2 linked regions of the Homo sapiens genome follow. The protein of the gene in region 2 interacts with the protein of the main gene of each other region in a biochemical or structural test. Each region holds a gene or a part of one and is shown on either strand. Other genes may lie near its edges.

Evidence for each region. Proteins that work in one complex are often made in the same cells at the same time.
Region 1: the proteins of KIT (region 2) and NHERF2 interact in a test that uses a peptide from one of them, tested with the Homo sapiens proteins (one large-scale study listed by IntAct).

The regions. Positions count from the first base shown.
Region 1 is NC_000016.10:2,033,264-2,036,916, reverse strand, and holds part of NHERF2 (Na(+)/H(+) exchange regulatory cofactor NHE-RF2), read right to left. Parts: intron 3,624-3,653; exon of another isoform or gene 3,566-3,623; coding exon of another isoform or gene 3,485-3,565; intron 3,329-3,484; exon of another isoform or gene 1,233-3,328; coding exon of another isoform or gene 1,224-1,232; intron 594-1,223; coding exon 414-593; intron 190-413; coding exon 36-189; intron 1-35.
Region 2 is NC_000004.12:54,737,821-54,741,232, reverse strand, and holds the end of KIT (mast/stem cell growth factor receptor Kit isoform 1 precursor), read right to left. Parts: intron 2,805-3,412; coding exon 2,676-2,804; 3' UTR 518-2,675; downstream 1-517. UniProt on the Homo sapiens protein: Tyrosine-protein kinase that acts as a cell-surface receptor for the cytokine KITLG/SCF and plays an essential role in the regulation of cell survival and proliferation, hematopoiesis, stem cell maintenance, gametogenesis, mast cell development, migration and function, and in melanogenesis.

The DNA.
Region 1 (3,653 bases), on a different chromosome or scaffold from region 2:
ACCGCACCCACCCTGTGCCCTGGGCCGTGGCCCACCTTCCACGTGCTCCTCGGTGGGTGTGACCCGAAGCCGCTTGAAGTGTTCATCTGTCTCGGGGTCCACGACCAGCAGCCGGGCCTCGTCCTCCCGTGCCTTGATGCTGGCCACCACCTCAGCATGGCGCAGTCCCTCCACATTCTGCCCGTTCACCTGCCGCCACCAGCATGTATCAGCCCCGCCATGGGCCCAGACAGCCCCCAACGCCGCGTGGCCAGGTGTGGCATCAAATATTCATCACAGCCACCGCCCACCGAGGCAGCAGGAGGCGCACCAGCTCAGGTTCCCAGCGTCTCCCTCCTCCCTGCAAGGACCCAGGGCCCCAGTGTGGACAGGTGCGGGGCACTCGGCACCCCGCAGCCCTGGTGGGCCGGTACCTCAATGAGCCGGTCCTGGGCGCGGAGGCCAGAGCGGGCGGCAGGTGAGCCCGGGTCCACAGAGCGGATGTACTGGCCGGGCCGGGACTTGTCACTATGCAGGTTGAACCCATAGCCCTGAGGTCCCTTTCGCAGGTGGCAGAGCCGAGGGCGCAGCTCCCTCAGGGGCCCACTGACATCCTGCAGGCCCAACGGACAGGGTCAGTCTCTTGCTCCAGCCTCCCGCCTCCAGAGGCCACTCCCCGGTGGTGCCGCCACTGCCCAAACTCGGTACCGTGCCCCCCACGGGCAGGCCCAGGTCTCAGTGGCAAACACTCCGGGCACCCAGGCTGCCTGTGACAGAGCTTTAGCTGTGGGAACTTGGGCAAAGCCTGTTTTCAAACCCAGAAGCCTCCCCGACGGGCCCAGCCGCCTTCCCGGGTTGCTGGGAGAATTCCTTTGGCTCGAGGCCAGCGTGGCGCACAGGCAGGGTGGGAGGAAGCACCAGGTGGGATGAACTGTCGCCGTTGGCCTCCTGGGGCGGTTGTCCCTGAGGGCTCTGCCTGTGCGTCCCCCTGCCCCGGGCTCTCCTCCAGAGCGTGGGGCAGGCGCTCCTAGGCCAGCAGTTTTGTTTTCTCTCCAGAGGCCTCCGTGGGGCTGGCTGCGGTGGCGGCTCTGTTTGCTTTCACATTCCAGGAAAATGAGCCGCCCCACCCCCGTGGGCCCAGCAAGCAGGGGCTGGGGCAGGAGCTTAGTGTGGACAGGGCACAGAGGGCCTCCTGGTGCCCGGAAGGACCCCCCGCTACCATCCCAGGCCCTGCCCCATGTTACCTCTGGCATCCTGCGGTAGGGCTCTGGGCCAGGGGACCATGCAGGCAAGGCCAGGCCCAATGACCACCTCCCAGCCAGGGGGTGGGCCAGGGTGCGGCGGCGGTGGCCAGCGGCTGCCCGTGCTCAGTTAAACATGGCGGTGGCCGGAGCAGGCAGGAGGCAGCTCAGGTTTCCAGGGAGCGCCAAGCTTGAGGGCGTGCGCAGGGGAGACTGTGCAGGCGGGCTGGGGGCTGCCAGGGCCCTTCCCTCACCTCCTACCTCCCTGTGTGTCCCTGAGGGACCACAGGCCAGGCCAGGCCAGGGCTGGGGCGGCATGGCAAGGGGGCGCTCAGACCTCAGGAGGGCAGGTCTCCAGGCCTCAGACACCCCCAACCCCTCCAGCCACCCACCTTCAAGCTCGCTCCAAACCCCAATGGACCAGAAACGGCCATGTCAGCGGGGGGGACCGCCCCGCCAAGGGAGCAAGGGGGTCCTTCTCCACACAGCTAGTGCTCTGTCCCCTGGGCTCAGGACCTGCCCTTGGTCTGGAACACCCTTCTCCTGTCCAGCCTGCCAGATGCCTCATCTGAAGCCTCCTGCCCACCCTCTGAACCCTCTCTGCATGGCCACCACCCAGCCCGTCACACCAGAAACTCCAGGGACAAGCCTGTGGCTCCCTGGCCCCACAGGGGCTCAGCTGGGCCACATGGGCTGAATTAGAGGGTGCAAGACCCCCAAAATCTCCAGGGCCCCACCACATAGACTCACTCCTCCCCCAGACACACCTGGTGGCACAGGCGTGGGGCTTCAAGGCTGACCCTGACACCTGCCCACCAAAGTGCCCCTCAGGGATGCAGTCACAGCACGGCCCCCAGGCTGGCCTGGGACGCAGGGAAGGCGTGGGGACAGGAGTCCAGTTCGGGAGGGGAAGTGGAGCACAGCCCCCAGGCTGGCCTGGGACGGAGGGAAGGCGTGGGGACAGGAGCCCAGTTCGGGAGGGGAGGTGGAGCACGGCCCCCAGGCTGGCCTGGGACGGAGGGAAGGCGTGGGGACAGGAGTCCAGTTCGGGAGGGGAGGTGGAGCACGGCCCCCAGGCTGGCCTGGGACGGAGGGAAGGCGTGGGGACAGGAGCCCAGTTCGGGAGGGGAGGTGGAGCACGGCCCCCAGGCTGGCCTGGGACGGAGGGAAGGCGTGGGGACAGGAGTCCAGTTCGGGAGGGGAGGTGGAGCACGGCCCCCAGGCTGGCCTGGGACGGAGGGAAGGCGTGGGGACAGGAGTCCAGTTCGGGAGGGGAGGTGGAGCACGGCCCCCAGGCTGGCCTGGGACGGAGGGAAGGCGTGGGGACAGGAGTCCAGTTCGGGAGGGGAGGTGGAGCACGGCCCCCAGGCTGGCCTGGGACGCAGGGAAGGCGTGGGGACAGGAGCCCAATTCAGTGGAGGAGGTGGGAGCGTGATATGGGCCCAGTCCGCAAAGACACATCACACAGCCACAGACACAAGACGTCCACACACACCTGCAAACACGCACAGCAGCCCACACATGCGGCCAGCCCCACAGTGCTGGCCCGGCAGCCCTTCCCACGCCTGCACAGCGGCCTGCGGGGCAGGGTTTCTCAGGGCACCAGACAGGAAGCAGGATCTGGTGGGTGTCTGGGGCCCTGAGGCCAGGCCAAGGACCCCTCAGTGTTCTCAGGGTCATTCTGGCCACCCCTCTGCCTCTGTCCAGAAGCAGCCGTCTTTCACTCTACAAGGCAAGAAGTTCTGCCTATCAAACCTAAACCCCTTCATTGTCAGCAGGGTCCCAGTGGCGCCAGGCACAGCACTAAAACCTCAGGTGGAGGGGCTGCAATGGAGGGGCCAGGGTGGGCTGCTGGCAGCACATGGGCTCGTGGGGAAGGGGGGCCCAGAGAGCCGAGGAGCTCGGGCGGCGTTCATAGCTCACATTCCTCCTCCCTGCCCTGGCTCAGCACACACTTCCTGCCGCCTCCCGCCAGGCCCTCGGGCTCCCACGGGCTCCAGGCTCCCTCCCTGCCGGCGGCCAGCACAGAGCTGGACCATCCCTGGTCCCCCAGCCATGCCTGTGTCCGGACAAAGAGGCTGGCATGGGGGTACCCTGGGCACCCCCCCAGATGGTGACGCACCAGCCCTGGCAGAGAAAGGCCTTCATTGTTGCTCAGCGACCAGCCTGCTTACATCAAGGTCCCGGAGTCCCCTCCTTCCACCCCGGGAGGCTGAGCGGCTGCCGGTTCCTCCTAGCCCTCCCTTCCTCCCACCCCACCTGACCTGTACCAGCCTCTGGGGTGGGCTCCGTGGAGGGGCTCCCGGAGCCCGGGCAGGTGGCGTGGCACTCCCGGAGCGTGCCATGACAGCGGCACAGTGACAGCAAGTGGCAGGCGTCCGGCCGGGGTGGCCTGAACTCTCTGGCCGACCCAGGCTGCCACCCCACTTATCT
Region 2 (3,412 bases):
AAGGATTCCTTTTCATTACAGGTCACTTTTCACCCCTTCCCTTTCCTTTCAGGAGACATTTCTGCAGGTGTAGATGTCACGTCAATAAAGACAGTCATGACTGAGGGTGTGTGGGTGCCTCATTCTTAATAAGATTATGTGATTCAGGGTGCTTCCTTTTGTTTCAAGCTGAAGAACTCTCAGCCTCTGTTTGGGTTCCAGTGGTCTGGACGGTACCAATTGGGCATGCATAATGTTTCACCCACATGACAGCACCCAGCTCATACATACTAAGCACCTTCTCTGTATCTATTTTTCAATTTAAATAGAGACCTCAGGTTGTAAGACTAAAATGAGAAAATATCACACGTATGAAAATTCTTAATATCTGTTGAATCTCGAAGCATGTAAATCCTAGCGTGATCTGATAGCCCTGCACATATTTTATGAAAACTGCGTACAAAACTTTGTCAGGATGATTGCACTTTAATGCTTTAAAGTTTAATCTCAACGAATCTCAACAATCAAATGACTCCACTTGATTTATATATGTACATTTTATTAGAATTCTTCAGAACTGTCAACAATTGGACAACATACAGGAATAAAACACGTGGAACACCAACATCCTTTAAACTTACGCCGCTTATGTATTTACACATAAAGTTACTGTATATATAAAAAATATTTTCAAGGACTCATGGGCTTGGGAATATTCAAAAGACATTATTGCTACATTTCAATATTTACAAAAAAAGCCACAAAATAATTTCAAACATTAAGCCACTGCAAAGAAACATCTGATGTAAGAAAAAATTATAAAAATATAAACTTTCAAGAATATCCAAGACAAAACTCTCAATGAAGTGCCCCTGAAGTACCTAGACATCTATAACTAACAACCACTTTTCTTACTATCATTGAAGTCAATAGAAACACAAAGGAATTTTTCAGACAAAGTATGGCAAACAACAATCTCTTGGGTGACAACACAACCCCAAAATCTGTTAACTTTGGAAAGGTGCGAGAGCATAGAACTCCAGTGCAAATGGTTACTTCCAGATAACGGCCACAGTTCTCTAAATGTAGTCTAAGAAATGTAGAAGGGGGAAACCATAAAGGCAACATACCTGAATCTTTCAAGACAACACACAAACTCTGCCATGTACACATTTGCCTTTTATATTGGGCAGTGAGGAAGGGGAGTTTTTTGTTTTGTTTTGTTTTGTTTTTAAAGAGGTAAACTACAAGAATAATATCCAGGCTACAGTCTAAAGGGTAAAATTTAAATGTTTCAGTGAGACAGTAGCATTATGGAAGGTCTAAGGAACAGGTACAGTAAGATGAGTCTAAATAACAGAGTGCCTTAAGTGCAGGTGAACTGCAAATACATAGGGACTGATGCCTTCCACTTCCTCTGCACCACTATGGAAGCTTCTGGTAAGCTACTCTAGACAGCTATGTGAAAAGAAACAAGAGCAGTACTAATAATGAAAGCCAAGTTACTTTTCAGGTACTAAAGGACCCTCTTGGACTCAGGGCAAAAATACCCCTCCAAATATTTGTCTACACACATACAAACGTACATACACATATATAGATACTGGCCCGGTGTCCAGGACATGCCTGCGAAGGAGGCTAAACCTATACTTTATTTCCTGCTACATAAGAATCCAAACTAAGATGGCAGTGTTTTCCCACTCCTGTGGGAGCCATGCAGTGAATCAGTAACTTTGTCAAACAGCATCAAATCCATTGAGTACAATGCCATTCTGAAGCTGATAGGCTTGTTCCACAGAATCTACAGAATAAGTTCATCAGCTAAAAGAGGAGATTTTGTTCAAACTGTGCTTTGTGGTTATATTGTTTCCTTAAAAAATGGTATTAACTGTTTCCTTCAAACTTATATGGCTCTTAATCTACTTCTATACACAGTGGACATAATGCCAGGGTTGTATACAGAAACGAAACCTTATGGTGTTTTCCCCTCAAATGTATGAACACGGACAATTTATAGATGCGTATATACAAGTGCTGGCTAGGGAGGCCTTCTCTCCAATTCAATGCTCTAATAGCAAACTCTATTTAAAAACCAGGTCGGTAGTATAAAAGCTCATGCAGTGGTCCACAGAAGAGCATCTTTTGTTCACACTTGGGGATCATTTTTTTCATGGCCTATGTCTCATTCCCAGCATGAAATACTAGATTTCTTAAGCCCAGGTGTTCATACTCTGTCCTTTGTTCTAATGATGTTCTGTTTTCCACATAAAGGACTTAGGTTTTCAGCTTCTAATCTTGTATCATCATACTACTATGGATGGTTCTGAAGGCCAACTGTGATTACTACCATTTATTCAGGTAAACTATCAACCATATTTTTGGGCAGAATTGGAGAAGCCTTGGAAAGGACTCTGGCCCCCAGTCCATACCTCCCTCTCTTTTTCCAAATCAGAATGTTTTCTGTTCATGGTAGAAGCTACGTTGCTATTGGGAATATATACAGTTGGAACCTTTGCAATAGGATGGTGGCTGATGACAAAAATCATCGGCCACTAAAGTGTGCTCAGAAAGACAGGATTGCAGTGGGGTGCCCACTATCCTGGAGTTGGATGCAAGTTGAAAGAAAAGAAAATAACCATCATGGAAGCCAAAAGAAGAGATCATTCCTGGAGGGGTGACCCAAACACTGATTCTGCTCAGACATCGTCGTGCACAAGCAGAGGCTGGGAGGAGGAAGCGGTGCTGCCGACAGAATTGATCCGCACAGAATGGTCTACCACGGGCTTCTGTCGGTTGGGGCTGCAGTTTGCTAAGTTGGAGTAAATCTGGAGAAAACAAGCCCATAGTCAATACAGCAGTCCCTACAACGAACATAGCAACAAAAGGCATACTTACAGTGTCAAGATCACAACTAACTGATGGAAACTCTTAAGAGAGAAGTGGTTTCCAAGAACTTTGTGGCCAAAACCCAAGTCATACTGACAAAACAAATATAAGCTTTGTTTTCCCCCTTCATTTTTCCAAGGAAATAACTTTATACAAGAAGTGGGGACAAAACATGCACAAGCTTAGCTCTTCTAAAAGGGCACACCAGGCACCAAGCACTATCTTACCTATTTAAAAGGCTTGTAAATCTCTCCAGCAACTACAACCCAATAACCAATGTAATTTGCTGGGAAACCCACGGCCCTTCCAGGGGTCTCTTGTCAAGAATCAAAGCAACTGGGTGGAAAATGCTGTTCAATTTGAAACATGTTTTGACACCCAGAAGAACAAGCTTTAACCCAAAAATTATCAGTGGTGTGCTATTAGGAAAGAAAAGATAGCTCCAAGCACACAGCCCAGGAAAGAAAGCAGCTTAAAAAAATCTGAGTCAAAGTATCACTAATTCTTGCTTAAAAAGAGAGGAAATAATGGATTTGAGTTTTCATTC